Linked DNA regions of Homo sapiens: region 1 is linked to region 2. The links come from fine-mapping of genetic effects on gene expression. A gene starts in region 2. The other region holds a variant in brackets. All regions are shown on one strand. Distances are between the middles of the regions.

Region 1 (8,337 bases), 53 kb before region 2:
AAAAACTAAGCCATAAAGTGTAAGTAAAACATGGGAGAATATTTTCTATCCAGCATGGGGAAGATCTTTGTTACTATGACAAAGAATCCAGAAGCTGTAAAAGAAATGACTAATACATTTCAGCACATAAAAGTAAATTTCTGAATATCAAAAAACACTATAGGTGGACGCAAAAGACAAATGATAAACTTGAAAAATTATTCAAAATTCTTATCACAAAGGGCTGGTGTCCCTAATATATAAAATCTATAAAATGACAATAGGAAAATGGGCAAAGAATAGAGTAATTCATAGTAAAGCAAATATATTAATAAATGAATGGTGAAATATATTCAATTTCATTCATAAGATAGATGCAAATCAAAATTACATTGATTAAAATAAATGCTCTGGGGCTGGGCGCGGTGGCTCACACCTGTAATCCCAGCACTTTGGGAAGCTGAGGCGGGCGGATCACCTGAGGTCAGGAGTTCCAGACCAGCCTGGCCAACATGGTGAAACCCTGTCTCTACTAAAAATACAAAAAATTAGCCGGGTGTGGTGGCGTGTGCCTGTAATCCAAGCTACTTGGGAGGCTGAGGCAGGAGAATCACTTGAACCCGGGAGACTGAGGTTGCAGTGAGCCTAGATTGCACCGCTCCACTCCAGCCTGGGTGACAGAGAGAAACTCCGTCTCAAAAAATAATAATAATAATAAAATAAATAAATAAATGCTCTGTTGCTTGCCAAAAACAAATACCTATGTTGAAATACCATTTTCACCTATTTGATTTGCAGAAAATAAAAACGTTGACCTATTGGCACAGTTGTAGAAAAAAGAGATGCTCTCATATATTATCTAGGGCTATCAAATGATAAAAGTCTAATGGGGCCAATCTGACAACACTTATAATTATAAATTCATATATGCTTTGGTCTAGCAATTCCTTTTCTAACATACAGATCATAAAGATAACTCACAGGCATGCAAAACGATCACCTACCAGGTCACTTATTACAGCACTGTCTGTGGCAGCAAGACATTTGAATTAACTTTAATGTCTAACAGGAGGGGATTGTTAAATAAATGATACATTCCAACAATGGAATACCATGTGGCTATTAGAAAAAAAAGAGGAAGCTCTTCTTGCACTGACATGGAAAGATTCTCAAAATTATATTGCTAAGCAAAAATAGCGAAGTATGCTATAATCATATAAAAAAGAAAAAAATTGTAATAGGAAGAAAAAACAGAAACCAACAATGGTGATTACCTGGCATAGAGAAAGATGGGAACCCAGTGGAAGGAGGCAGGAGCAGATATACCTTTTTTTACTTTTTAATGTTTTAACAATGGGAAAAGGGTTTAAAAAGTGAAATAAACACACACATAAAAATACAACCTGGAGTTGCGAAACAGTGATTTTGTTTTCCTCTCTCAATCTTCCCACAACATCATGAAGAGTGAAATTCAACATTTACAAGCTCTTACTTGTCCAGTTTCTCTTCTGCGTGGATTTTCAGGGCCTGGTATCGCTGCTCCTCTTGTTTAACTCTGGCTAAGTAATCCTGAGCACATTTCTTCAAGGCTTCTTCATTCTGTTCCAAAGCAAAAATTGAAAATAAACAGGTCATTTTGTTTCTTCTAATCTACCACATATCAGAGTTTTCATTTTTTAAAGAATGGAAAAATCTAATTAATTCAGATGGCTTTTATTCATACTCTGCAGTAATTTGAAATAGCCACATGTAATTCTCACTGAGGAAATTCTACATAATGTCTTCATGTGTTAATTTTCAATATCATACAGTAAGGGTCAGTTATACCAATATGCCTACTTTAGGAAGGCAGTTATTCAAAACTGAATGGCAATTCGATTTCCATATTTGATAAACTGGCCAGTTTCATTTTTATTTTAATATGAAAATAAAGCCATTTCATTGCTATAATTGTGTCTGGTTGATATGGTAAAGTTAAATTAAATCAACAGGCCCATTTACATCTAAATTTGAAACATTATACTAATGTCTTCTAGAATATGCAGCTTGAATTTTTCAGAGACATGGAATTCCTTCTAATCCCTTTTACTAAAACTGAAAAGGTGAATTACCAGAAAGAACATTTCTAGAATTCACCTGAGGTCTGAGGGTTCAATTAACAGTTCTTGCAGTCTACGCCACAGCCTGGGGCTTATTGGCTTGACACAGGAGAGGAATGGCCAAGACATGGCACCCAGTGGGCCAGATGCCTGAACAACCAAAGAAGGAAAAATGTGGAAAAAAATCCAGCTTCACTGGAATAGAGGATACAAGGCCAGTAGGCCCTGAGCTCCTATTTAAAAGGATACCCACAACCTCTGGCATATGTATTTGATGACCAGTTACCAAGGAAATACACTACTGGAAATACACCAGGAGACAGAGGGAAAAAACACTCTACCTTCTTGAACCCTTCCAGAACACCTTTCAGGTTCTCATATCTCCTGAAGAGATCAGAAAGGGACCTTTCCACAGAGTTAAGGTCAGCCAGGGCCTGTTCCTTCTCCATGGTCAGTTGCTGGAAGCTCTTCTGAGAGGTCATACTTGTCCTTTGTTCATCTTCTGGGAATCACAAGTCAAAAGGAATGACATATTTATTCAAAAAATAGACACTCCTTAGAAGACAAGCAGTGTTCTCGTGGTAGGGACACAGCCGGGGATGTGACCAAATTCCCGCTCTTATGGCTTATACTCTAGTTGGGGGAGACGCGTGGTAACAAGTGATGGGGAAAGAACAAGGCAGGGTAAGGAGGAATGGGGGCGGGGAGGGGGCTGTTACTGTACAGAGAGTACCTGCTCTCAGGGAGAGATCTGAGCATAGACCGGACAGAAATGAGGATGTGAGCCATACAGCTACCTGGGAGAATATTCCATAGAGAAGAACAGCTGTGGTAAGGCCCTGAGCTGGGAAGGCATTAGGTGATGTGGATGATAGAAAGTATCATTTCGGCAATTTAGTGGAGAAAGGACAGACTCTGGTTTAGGGAGTCAATCCTTATGATATAGATGAGAAGAGACTCTAAATTCCATGCAGGAGGATCAATCCCTGTTGTTTTGTAAAGGCACCGCTGGGTCTGATGCAGAGAAATTACAATCTGCACTAGAGTAAGAACCCTGCACCAAAACACAGGATGCTCCCAGTGGGTGTTAGTGATGTGACCAGGCCACCAACAGTCACAGAATTCAAGGCCTGCCATCTTCTAAAATGAACCTAACTACAGTTGACCCTCATTATTCACCAAGTCCATACCTCCCAATTCACCTACTTGCTAAAATTTATTTGTAATCCTAAAATCTATCCTCCTGGACTTTGACAGTCATTTGTGGATGTGTGCAGAGTGCAAAAATGCTTTAGTCACCTGATATGCACGCTCTCAGCTGACAGTGAACAAAGCAATACTCTGCCTTCTTGATTCATTCTATAAACAAGTGTTCTTCTTTTGGTCTATTCAGGCCATGTTTGTTGCACTTGTGTTCTTTTTGCCGGAGACTTCACTGTTTTAAGTGGCCTCCAAGGGCAGTGCCACAGTGCTGTCTAGTGATACCAAGCACAAGAAGGCAGTAAGGTTCCTTAAAATACATACATTACAGAAGCTCTGTTCAGACGTGAGCCAAAGTGCCGCTGACTGTGAGCTCAATGTTAATGAATCAACTATATATATTAAATAAGGTGTCTTTAAACAGGAACACACGTAAAACAAGGTTATATACTGATCAATCAATGAAAATGTTGTGGCCAGATGCAAGACTCTAACTCTGTCTTTTCCCTAGGAGCAGTGTTTATTTACTTATTTATTTTTTGAGATGGAATTTTGCTCATTGCCCAGGCTGGAGTGCAGTGGCACGATCTCGGCTCACCATAACTTCCGCCTCCCAGGTTCAAGCGATTCTCCTGCCTCAGCCTCCCGAGTAGCTGGGATTACAGGCATGCACCACCACGCCCAGCTAATTTTGTATTATTAGTAGAGACGGGGTTTCTCCATGTTGGTCAGGCTGTTTTCGAACTCTCAACCTCAGGTGATCCACCTACCCAAGCCTCCCAAAGTGCTGGGATTACAGGCGTGAGACACCATGCCAGGCCAGGAGCAGTGTTTAGTATTCACTAACTCAGTGTTTGCAGCAACTTTACAGAACATACCTCCCACGAATAATGAGACGACTGTATCTAAGTGACAGACAAATACAAGTTTGTGACATGGTCTGAAAATCATAAATGGATCCGGCTATGGTCTTATAGTTTATGCCACCCCCCAACCCCAAATTTGTGTATTGAAACCTAATCCCCAGTGTGTGAGTATGTTCAGGGTGAAAGTGGGCATGGAAGGGAATTTGGGAGGTGATTATGTCAGGATTAGTGTCCTTATAAAAGAGACCCCAGAGAGCTAGCCAGCCCCTTCTATGAGGAATGGGCCCTCCCCAGACATCTCATCTGTGGGCACCTTGAACTCTCCTGTCTCCAGAGCTATGAAAAATGTTTGTTGTTTATAAGCTACCTAGCTTACATATTTTGTTATACCAGGCTGAACAGACTAAGACAGATCCTATGGCTCATACCCTCAAAAAACAAAATGTTCTCCTTACCAATCATTTGAGCAATAGTCTTTTCATATTCAGCTACAATTTTCCTAAATGAGAAAAAAAGAACTTATTACCAGAGGAGGATTTTCAGACAATGAAAGTTGGAGAAATGCTGTCCCAAACAATTAAACACATTAACATACACTGACAATGTATGTAATCCATTTATCTGCTTTGGGGCTCTCGTTATCTTTTTTTTTTTTTTTTTTTT[A/TA]CATTATATAAGGTTTCTTAAGGTTCTAAAAAGGTTTTTGTTAAGATTTTATCTTTAGTCAAACTTATATTTTACTTATAGAACCAACTGCCTTCCCTTTCTCTTTGCACCTATTTGAATACTGCAAGGAAATAGATTCATTCTGCTTAGATGAGTCAATCTTTTACAAACTAAGTTAAAGATATTCTTCTGGGCTCTTCCTAACAGATGCGATCTGACTTTAGACTTTCCTGAGTCAATCCACCCTTTCAGACACTCTACCTCTGATTCAGTGACAAGTTTTATTTTGTGTCCTAATTCCAAAAGTATTTCACTTATTCAAAGACTTTAAAGATCAACCTCTTGGGTTAACCTTTCTTCTAGTGAAGAATGACAATGTCCTTCTGACCCAGTCCGGTGCTGGGTGCTCTGTGAGTCGCATCACGTCCTCCCCTGCCCTCAATGGTGGTGCCCCCATCACTTTTGACGTCATATCCAAGTTGGTTATTATGGATGGCTACCGCTCTCTAAGAGCAGGAATGTCCCTTCCTTTCCATCAAGCCCAGCAAAGGGCCTTACACCTAGGAAATGCTTAAAAGACAAATAATAAAAGAGCAACAAATTAGAGGGATATACTTAAAATGTTTTTTAATCATTCAAGTGTTGACCACACTGTGTGTGAATTATTTATGCCTTTTTTTCTTCTCTACTTTGATTTCATCTTTAGTCATTTCATGGCTCATAACTCTCCTTTCTAAAAGTGAGGAAAAATAAAAAGATTTCGATTTCAAGTCAATCAATTTTGTTTCTTGTTAACAAGCTTTCTATCATCTATTTGGTGGTTATGTAATTTGAAACTCTCATGCATAATTAATTTTTAAAAAGTATTATGGACCAGGCGCTGTGGCTCATGCCTGCAATCCCAGCACTTTGGGAGGCTGAGGCAGGTGCATTGCTTGAGCTCAGGAGTTACAAACCAGCCTGGGCAACAGAGCGAGACCTCATCTCTAAAAAAAATTATGCAGGCATGGTGGCACATGCCTGTGGTCCCAGCTACTTGGGAGGCAGAGGGGAGAGGATCAGTTGATCCCAGGAGGTTGAGGCTGCAGTGAGCCATGATCACACCACTGCACTCCAGCCTGGATGACAGAGTGAGACCCTGCCTCAAAAAAAAAAAAGTAGTATTATGAATTTCAGTGTCTCTATCATTGGATAAATCTTATTTTTCTGTATTCCAAATGGATATTTTGATACAAATTTCTGTCAGTTCTAAGAAGATAAGAATTATGTGGGTTCTGTTTACATGTTATATGTTCTGAACAACCCAAGATAAACTACAGTATTTGAATATAATAACTGGTTAGCAATAACTCCTGAAATAACATTCTCAATCACAAAGCAAGGTGCAAACAGCAAAGCCCTCAAGCTCTCAACACTTGGTTCTGTGGCAAGCAAACACTGTCATCACTTCATCTGTATCAAATCTAACAGTGCATAAAAGTATCCAGCCCCTCCCCAAAACCTCCAGTCTAACCTCATCTCCAAAACTTCTTGCCGGGTCTCTTCGTATTTCTTCTTCCATTCATTTGCTTCAATCTCTTTAGTAATTATCTAGAGTACAATAAAGCTTAGTTTTACCCAATCTATTACAATTTGCATTTAAGACTGGGAACTGAAATAGCACACAACCAGGTCTAACCCAAGATGTTCAATCTATATTAGAAATATAAACTTCAATATTAAATGTTTGTAACCATTTGGAAAAGTGTATTCTAAGCCACACTGAATGCTGGGATGCAGACACGGGAATAAAGATGAGTAGAACATCTCTCAGAAATCCCAAGTAGTATTTACAGCCTCTGTGAACTTTACCTTGGTCCAGGGTCTAGCTCTCAGCTCTGCAGGGCCAGGCCCTGACTGGGACAGACACCAAGAACAGAGCCATCTGATTGGCAGGTATTCACTCTTAACTAAGGCCATGTAATCACGGCTGATGCCAGGCCACCAGAGTGAAACTGCCACAAAGTCAGACCACTGGAAGTTGGCATGAGCAACACATTCTCTTTCTATAGAGATTTCTGACAGCTTCATAGAAATGGAGTCAGAAGGAGGGGGCTCAGATGAGCTGGCTACATCTAGCTATAGCATCCGTCACTTATGGGTAGAGTCTTGCTAGTTAGCCTGGAACCTAGGCTCATATTTGGGATGCTCTTGCTAACTGGAAGGAAATACTCTAAATTCATTGCCTCAAACTCTATTTGCCCTGGGCTGGGCTTGCATGGGCAGCCTCTTACTGTACTTCCCTGGCCGTGCCGCTCTCTTCCTAATTGGTAGTTTCATTATATTTATTAGGATCTCAAGAACATAGAAGGATGTATCCTGTGTGCTTCAGGTAATCAGGCACCTCTTTACTTTGATCCATTAGGTGGTGATCTCATAGTTTAACTCCCAGGAAAAACATCAAGTCATTTTTCTCATTTACAAGATTTTGGCCAGGGACAGTGGTGCGTGCTTGCAGTCCCAGCTACTCAGGCAGCTGAGGCAAGAGGATCGCTTGACCCTAGGAGTTCGAGGCTGCAATGAGCTATAATTGTGCCACTGCACTCAGCCTGGGTGACAGAGTGAGATCTTGTCTTTTATTTTATTTTTATTTTTCTGAGATGGAGTTTCGCTCTTGTTGCCCAGGTTGGAGTGCAATGGTGCGATCTCGGCTCACCACAACCTTCGTCTCCCAGGTTCAAGCGATTCTCCCACCTCAGCCTCCCAAGTAGCTGGGATTACAGGCATGCACCACCACGCCCAGCTAATTTTGTATTTTTTTTTTTTTTAGTAGAGATGGGGTTTCTCCACGTTGGTCAGTCTGGTCTCGAATTCCTGAACTCAGGTGATCCGCCCGCCTTGGCCTCCCAAAGCACTGGGATTACAGGCATGAGCTACTGCGCCAAGATTTTATCTCAAAAAAAAAAAAAAAAAAAGATTTTGGTGGGCCTTATTACCACTGCTCCCAAGTTTTGAAAACAGGACTAGCTGACATCCCTCATTACCAACTTGATGCTATTTTAGAAAGCTGTAAAAGACCTACAGCTGAGGTGCTTAACCACTTTCAGCATACTATAAAAATTAAAACTAAAAAAAACTATAAAACTAAAAACTATAAAAATAAAATTGCCACACCTTCCTTTAAGAACAGGTGGAATTGTCAAGAAACACACAAAACAAACACACAAAATACAGCATAGATATATGACAGGAGAGGGTGGGCAACTTATTAATGGTACACAACAGTGTCTTTCGTATTTTTCAGATAACCAGGAAAGGCCTAGCAGTGATCTATTTTGAACAAAGGCTGTTCAAGAAACACAATACAGGAATCGGAGAGTTGAACGGTTTAAAGAATGGATGAAAGTAGGAAACAACTGTGTATTACTGCAAAAAAATTACAAATGTTTTTAGGCATTAGCATATATCCTCTGTAAAATAAAAGCACTGATTTAGTTACACATGGGAGCAAAGCTGGCAAAATTAGGTATTTTAAATGTCAGGGCTGAAAG
Region 2 (8,337 bases):
AGGATGAACTTGAGATTGTACCTCCTCAAAAGTCCATTCCTAGAGGATGTTTCTTCACCAATATATTTCCCAGCAAAGAGAAAGACCACCACAACAGCAGCAGCATTAAACAACTTTAGTGGGAGAAAACAGACAGATAGCAAATACAGACCAGCCCAAGCTTTACAGCTACCAGTCTGGTTATTTCCAGGAAATATCTTTAGCTAGAGTTTTATTTTACCAGTAAGCCTAAAACCTGCTTCTATATGTGGCTTCAAAAAAAATCTACAACCTTATCCGCCACTTAACTCCTGGCATACAACTCTTAGGAAGAGTCATTATAGAGTTTAGATACTGCAAGTTCCTAAAGCAGTTCCAGTATAAGAAAAGTCATTTCAAAATAGTCTTAGATGTTTCCCTGAGTTCAAAGAACTATACAGAAGTCAGCACAGGAGCCATGGGTATGGTAAATGTAGCCCACACGTTTGAGGGCCATTATGTACCAGGAAGCCAGAATGTTTACATATTTCAACTCCAACTCCTGACTAACTCCTCGTAAATCATTCTTCCAGAATGATTTAGTCTTATATAATTTATAACTGCGGTCCAACCATGTCTTGGAACCACAAAAGTATGAAAGACTATCTTTACCAGGAACAAAACAATCAATAATTTTGGGAGAAAGGGAACTTATCCAGTCCCAGAAATTAAACTTCAATATGAAATGACTCTGAAGGGCTTTCTGCCCACTGAAATCCTCTCCAGGCAGACCTGTGCTCTGGCTGTCTTTGCACATTTGCTGTGTATGTGTGACAAGGCCATTGGCGGTACTCTGGACTAGCTCCGGATGTTGCACCCAAGGACCCTGGAAGTCAGGGTACGACCAGGTTGATGAGCAATCATCCTATTGTTTAAAGACCCTAAACTGAAAGCCTTCATAATATGCAGGGTTGTTTCCTGGACTGGACACTCCTCTACCCCTACAATTACAGTCTGCATTCATGAACTACCCCATAGAGCCTTCATGATCCATAAACATTTAAAAGTTTTCCTTTTAGAGAGAATGAAAAAAATGTGAGAGTCACTGGTACAGGAAGGACCAAACAATTGGGTCTCTGTGGTTTTGGGGGCCTAGGTCATCCAGGCCTCTATTCAATTGGCAAAGAATCTGGCGGGATGAATCAGTCTAGCAGCTGACAAAACGATGAGGAAGGGCCGCCCAAGCTGATGGCAATTCAAAAAGGCTTTCAAACAGCTCCTTAACATGTGTCTTATGAGCTTTATTTAAATTTGATGGAAAGGCCACCAAATAGTTCTTTCAAGCTTCAAAATCTCCCTTCTGATCTGCCAATCTTTACGGAAGAAAAGGGAAGCTATGAGGAATAAGTGTTATCTTCATCACTGAGAGTGCTACACAGCTATGCGTCGCACACAAATTCTCCAGTATATAAGCTTGCCTATTCCCATGTTGTCCCTGCCTAGAACAATGGCAAAATGCAGCCTAGGGCAAGTTGAGGGTATTGCTGAATTCTCAGCTGGGTAAGCACAGCATGGAGCTATCAATTTAAAGCAAAACCAAATCAGCTTTTTGCTGATGTCATTTTACCAATAATTCCAGCTCCATCATGCAGTCTATTACCAGAGTAACTTGACTTCCCTAGGCAACCTACGAAGAAGTTGCTAAGCAATAAAAATACTTATTAGGGAGAGGAGAAAGTCACAATCAGCACAAAGTTTAGGTAGCTAGATAACTGAAAGCTGGCGCTGCCACTTCAGGGTGACAGTGCCAGATACTGGAACAGAGAAACCACATAAAAAGGACTTCCATCCTAGAGTCCCTTCTCCACACAGCAGCCCAGGGAGCCTTTTACAAAAGAAGCTGAATCACAATCCCTCTGTTCAAAGCTCTCTGTTGTGGGCTGAATTATGTCTCTCAAAATGATATGTTAAAGTCCCAACTCCTAGTACCTATGAATGTGACCTTATCTAGAAATAGTATCTCTGAAGATGTTACCAAGTTAAGATGAGGTCAAACTGGATTAGGGTGGGCCCTAACTTCAACGACTGGTGTCCTCACAGGAAGGGCACGGTAAGACAGATACATAGGGAGAAGATGGCCATGTGTTGAGACAGAGACTGGAGTTCTGCTGCCACAAGCCAAAGAACACAAAGGATTGCAGACACCCAGCAGAGGCTAGAAGAGGCAAGGACAGACTTCCTGGAGCCTTCAGAAGAGCAAGGCCCTGCCAACACCTTGACTTGAGACTTCTGGTTCTGATTTCAATTATCCAGGACTGTGAGAGAATAATTTCTGTTATTGTAAGCCGCTAAGTTACTCTGTTATGGCAGCCCTTGGAAATGCATATGCCCTCCAGTGGCTTTCCACCTTACTGAAAACCAAATCCTCACTGCAGCAGCATCTGGACCTCCTCTGACCACGCTGACTTCAGCTCCTCCTGCTCTCTGAGTAGTCAGTCCACACTGACCTCCTGGCTGGTCCTCAAACTGTACCATGAACCCTCCACCTTACGGCCTCCCTGCAGCAGGCTGGTGCTGTCAGACCTTTGCAGATGCCACTCCTTCTGCTGGAAGGGTTCCCACCTCAGGAACCTCCAAGGCCTGCTCCCTCAATCTGCCTTCAGGTCTCTGTTCAAGTCACCTAATCATGAATGCCCCCACTAACTCCCCTTCAGCCTTCCCTATCCCCACTCCATATTCCCTATTCTCTTCCCCTGCTTTATTTTTCTCCACAGTGCTTCACACAAGCTGACATAGATATTTTGCTTAACCCTTCACAGGTTCTCCCTCCACAATGTTAGCTCGAGAGAGCAGGACTTCACTGCTGAATCACAGTGCACTCTATTTAGTAAATAAGCATATGAATTCTGTTGGGATAGGTGAAATTTTATTCTGAACTGGCTGTGTGACAAAAAAGGTTTCTACTAATTAAGTGAGACAACGGAAGCTCCTGCAGATGAAGGGCTGGGCTCTGAGGGGCTGGGAGGGAATCCATGTGCCAGGTTTTCCTAAGTAGACTGAAGGGCTCTCACCACATCCCTGCATGGAAGTGGGCGAGGTGAGTGATTCCGAAAAAGCCTCTTAAGAACCTCCCTATCAAAAATTAAGTCAAGTCTTACCTGTAATTTTTGTCTCCAGCCACACCCCAGTAGAAAGCAACTTAGCCTGAGGAATTTGTGAAGTCAAATATAAACATGATCTTCCTACTTCATTACTATACATATTTTTTTAGGGGCTGAGGAGAAAGGCCTAGTAGGAATGTTTGATAATGATAATCTTATACTGCAAATGCACAAACTCTACTCAGAGGAGAAAGCCTCGATCACCACACCCCTAAAAATACATAAGCCAGGAGGTTTCAAACAGCTCTTTCTTAGTCAAACTCTCTTAAATGGTCCTAAATTTACACTTTTTTCCTTCCTTCATTGATATTTTTCAAAACTTTTGAAACAAAACAGGCAGGAAAAATGCAAGTTTTTCTTTACCTTGGCTTTTGGCCCCAGGTCCTGCCAATCCGAGTGATGGATCACAGGACTCCTTGAAAGGTGATCGGATCGGGGTTTCAGCTTCAGGAGTCTCAAAATTACCTTCAGAATCCGAGCTGCCAAGGAGGAAAAATGAGGAATTACCACTTTCAACGGTATTTCCGACACCCTTTGAAATCTACATATTCACAGAGGCTAAAAGTCCAGCACTTTTGTCTAACTTCACAACCAACCGGTCCTCAGCAGGGTCTGACCTGCGGGAGGCAACTGCGGTCTCTGAGCAGTGCCCTCCTTGGGTTTCTCAGGCTGGCATCCTGTCTCTCTGAAAGCTCCTCCATTCCCTGGAGCTTTTCTCCAGCACCATTTATTTTCGAGGTCATCCTTCCCTCAGACACCTGAAAAATGCGCTTTTCCAACAGACTCCTTTTGTCACAAGAGCCCTTTCCCAGAGGCTTTAACAATTAATACTGGTCCCACCCCCGAGTTAGGCCGATGCTAGGCATTCCTCTTTGCTCGGTAGGCCTCTACCTGCTGGAACTCCCTGGGCCCGAGGCTAAGAATGGTGTCACCTGCCTTCCGCAATCACGCGGATGACAGCCCGGCAGAGACCACCATTTCCCAGCAGCTGCCAGGGGCCTGTCATCACGCGACCTTCTTCACCGCGGCTGCGTTTTGGGTACACGGTAGGGCCCCGGGAAGGGCCGGGGAGCGACTTCTTCCCCACGGGGGGGCCCTAAGTTGCACTGGGTTAGATCAGTGACGTTGCTCCAGTGTGGAGGGGCGGGGGCTGGGGGTCGAAGCTTAGAGAAAGTGACCGAGGCCAGCGGGGATGCGGAGAGACTGCAGATTCTGGGTTGGGTGCGGAACTCTCCTAGCGAAACGGGGGCCAGAAACCCCACGGGAGGACAGAAGATCCTGAACTTTCGGACGCACACGGGGACCCGGCTCCGGGCAGGGACGCGGCACGGCCGTGAGGACGGTTTCGCGGGTGGCGACCACACACACGCACACAGAGGGAGTCGCAGATGGATGGAGGCAAGCGCGTCTGCATCTCAGCGGGGACGCCGTGTACTTGCCTGAAACTCAAGGATTTGGTCTCGGCTTGCGAATCCTCCTCCTCGGGGTCGCCCTCGGGCCCGCCAGCCTCGTCCTCGCCGGCGGCCCCGCCGCGTACCGCAGACCACGTCCATTTCGCCCACTGCACGGGGGACAGGATCTGCCACGGGCTGAACGCCATGAGCGCGGCTCCTCCGGCTCCAGCTCCTAGGGGCAGGGGAATGGGTGGGGAGAGCCTTTTTCCCTTTCAAAATGGAGGGAACCGGTGACAGGCGCCAGCAAGCGTTTCCAGCAGAGGCGCGGATGTGGTTAAACGAGTGCCGTCGGGGGCCCTGGTGGAGCGCTTCCTCCCGCCGGCAGCCGGCGCTGCGTCCTCCTCGGCCTCCTCCCCTCACGGTGCGGCCGCAGCGGGCCCCGCGCCGGGCTCCACTAGCCGGGAAGACGCCCGTCCTGTGGCCTCCTCAGGCCCCCGGCCCGCGGCGCCCGGCTGCTAGACCTCTGCTGCTCCCGCTCCCGGCTCGCGGACTCCCGCCTCCCGGCCGGCGGGGCGCGCATCAGCTGCCGCCGGAGCCGCGCCCCAGAAGCCGCCCCCTCGGACCGTACTACTCGCGCGCGCGCGCGGGGGCGGCGGCGGCGCCGGGGCTTTGAAGACGGCCGCGCGCCCGCCGGATCCCCCTACCGCGGCGTCACGCTGGTCGCGGCCCGACTGAGGGCCGGGGCTTGCCGGCTGCGCGGGGAGATTCGGTCATACCCCACAGGTCCGCCGGCGTCCGGGGCAGAGGAGGACCGTTTTCTGAGCCGGGGCACGCTGTCCTCTTCCTCTTTCCTTATTCCTTTTTAAAATTTTTTTAAACATTTTCATCTTGCCACTGTGACTTCACGGCGATGGTGATATTGGACTGCACACAAGCCCCTTGTTACCAAAAAAAAAAAAATACAAACCTTCGCGGCCGCTGTGGACTGTTGTTTTCCCCTCCCTAACCCTGGCAGCGTGGGGGATTTCAGCCTGTTCATCTCCATCCCTGGCATTCCCGGGATTTGAAAATCCCTTGGCAAAGCCACAAGAGTGACCGAGGACTGGAATTTAAGATGCCCTCCCCCTCCCCAAACCGCACTCGGGGAGGCTTCCCAAGTGCCCAGGTCTTGTCTTAGGTAAAGGGTACTAAATTCCCTGTGAGATTACAGCCTGATGGGTTTCCCATTCTCCATATTTATTTATTTAAAATACAGACAGGCGTCTCGATATGTTGCCCAGGCTGGTCTTGAACTCTTGGCCACAAGCGATCCTCCCGCCTCTGCCTCCCAAAATGCTAGGATTCCAGGCCTGACACCGCGCCTGACCCCATTCTCCTTTTTGAGATTTTCTTTTCGTAACTTCTAAGTCTTTGATTTCTGACTTATTTCGCTGCTTCAGTAACAAGCCAAGAGGCCTGGCGACATCTTTAGGTTTGAAGGCAATGGGAAATAGCTGATGTTCTCCATTTCCCATGGAGGGATTTCATGTAGGGATTGTTCCTCTCAAAACCACCAAAGCACCTTCTTCCAAGTGAATCGATTGCCTCAAACACCAGGCTTAATGATCTCCTTGCCTGGATAAGGTGTTCCAGGTGGTACTGTAATTTCCGAGTTGTGGTGCATCCATGAGGTGCCTGCAGGTTCCCACAGAGACAGCAGCTCCAAAATGTGCACGTTGAAACTTGCAAGAGACTAACCGTTGCCTCTGAAAGCAGTTGGCATGTATATTCATCGTGACTGTTTTACACATTTGATAACAAAAACAGGAGCAAAATACAAGATAAGGCTTGGCAGGGTAGTTTTACCAAAACCGAAGGGCAGGAGTTAACCTGAAGTCTAGAGAAAAGAAAGGGGTGGGGTGTCAGGATGCTTTCGAATTCATCCTGGCTTCTTCCCAGAAATAAATTGTCATGAGTGTTCTAGCGACTATAAAGAAGTGAACTAGGCAGGAGGTCCATGTGAAATATATCACACCACTTATCCAACTGTTGTAGTTTTAGGTTTATGCTTACCCAGTAAAACTTCAGGTTCTACAGTCCCCCAGGCTCCTGGATTTGACACAGGGTTCTGTTTCTGGGAAATAATATTACCCCAGCAAATCAGTAACTAGCATACACTAGGACCTGTTCTTCCTCCTGAATAGTTCTCTTATCTTTTCATTCCTTTGCATCCCTGTGGTGACTGACATAGTTCCCGCACTCCCCATCTTTCATGATCTACTGTAAATAACTCCCACCTGGTTTTACCTCTGAAGGTTTTCTTGCCTGAGGTCACCCCTGCCTGGCTGATCAGTGACTCGTGCTCTAATCTTTCGGTTCCCATTCCCCTCTATGCCCATCCTTTTGTATTCCTAGCCACAGTGAGTAGAGAACTCGTTGTCAATCTTTAATATGCCCAAGAATCATCCGCCAGCCTTCTTAAAAAAATCCAAATTGCCAGCAGAGTCTGGAAATCTGTGTGTTCACTAAGTGTCCTGGGGAACTGTTATCACAGGGTAAATTTGGGAAACAGTGCCTAGCTTGAACCAACTGCTTACTGCTTCGGGAACAGTCTCCCTTTGCCTGCAGAGGGAGCTTTGCGAATTCCTGGAACACACCTCCTCCCCCACCCCAGCCCACCCCAAGTTCCCAGGCTTCAGCTGCTCGAACGTCCTTCAGCACTTAGCTCAAGTGTCTACAGGGGGAAGCAGGCTCATTGTCCTTCCTTTCTATCATTTCTATACCCCGAACATCCATAAAGAACACTTCCTGTGGCCTTAGATCTGAAAGTGAAAGACAGCATTCTTAATAGTTACACAGGGACTATAGGCATAAACCAGGACTGTCTCCAGAAGACCAGGATGTAAGGCCATTCTACACTTAGCACACCATATATAACATATTTATTTACATATCTGTCCCACAAGCTTCTAAAGGGACTTTACCCCCCTTTGGGACTTCCTCCAGAAATTAGGACAGAACCACACACTCAGTAGGTGTTCAATATATATGTAAGAAAAAACAAACATTCTAGTTTACAAATAGTCCTTGTGAGTTTGGCTAAGGTGACATAAATTCCTAAAGCCTGACTCCCCCTGGGGAAATCTAGTTTCTGGGCCAGAAAATAACAGAACCCAGGACCAAGTGATGGCCCCAGTAAGATTAAGCCTCACCTATGCAGCAATTTACTTTTTTTTTTTTTTGAGATGGAGTCTCACTCTGTCACCCAGGCTGGAGCACGGTGGTGCAGTCTCAGCTGACTGCAACCTCCGCCTCCTGGGTTCAAGCGATTCTCCCTGCCTCAGCCTCCCAAGTAGCTGGGATTACAGGTTCCTGCCACCATGCCCAGCTAATTTTTTTATTTTTTAGTAGAGACGGGGTTTCATCATGTTGGCCAGGCTGGTCTTGAACTCCTGACCTCAGGTGATCCACCCACTTCCAAAGTTCTGGGATTATAGGTGTGAGCCACCGCACCCGGCCTGCAGCAACTTCTTGAGACTGGACTAGCAAATAAATGCCTAAGGTTTCTGAAAATCACTCCTCTGCAAGTTCTTGAACTTAGTGTAAGCAGTAATGAATATGAGTCCATTAGCTGGACCACTCCTCTCAGTCTGCTGCTCCTAGTCCTGGCTTCGTTCTTACCTGGTACAGGTTGCAAAGTCACAACTAGGAACACTCTAGCCCTGTCAGTGAAGACGTGCCATTGCCAACAGGAGGCTGTGGCCACCCTATCTGCTTTTCTGCCCTACCTCAGTCTAACCAGGCAAGGGCATGATGATGTCTAATCAAGACAACATTGCCAATAA

Direction of the effects. Alleles are on the strand shown, and positions count from the first base shown. SD is a standard deviation of normalised expression in the study named.
For the expression in naive CD4 T cells of the gene that starts at base 5,066 in region 2, allele TA in region 1 goes with a lower level than allele A (large effect, 0.90 SD a copy in Schmiedel 2018).

What was found. PIP is the estimated chance that this variant, and not a neighbour inherited with it, causes the effect. A credible set is the group of variants that fine-mapping cannot tell apart.
Region 1: its variant is the best candidate, but not a certain one, in a credible set for the expression of TACC1 in naive CD4 T cells (Schmiedel 2018, PIP 0.65).

Annotation. Positions count from the first base shown.
Region 1 is chr8:38,836,530-38,844,866 of GRCh38, reverse strand. It overlaps TACC1 (transforming acidic coiled-coil containing protein 1), which reads right to left. Exons shown (of 13, transcript NM_006283.3): 8 at 6,321-6,397; 9 at 4,600-4,643; 10 at 2,420-2,580; 11 at 1,472-1,578. Among named protein-coding and RNA genes, the nearest start is that of TACC1, 53 kb to the right of the region's middle. The variant A/TA (reference allele first, on the strand shown) is at 4,808.
Region 2 is chr8:38,783,965-38,792,301 of GRCh38, reverse strand. TACC1 (transforming acidic coiled-coil containing protein 1) reads right to left here and starts at 5,066. Exons shown (of 13, transcript NM_006283.3): 1 at 4,559-5,066; 2 at 3,483-3,598. The coding sequence starts at 4,719. RefSeq lists a silencer at 4,803-5,342 and an enhancer at 5,383-5,462.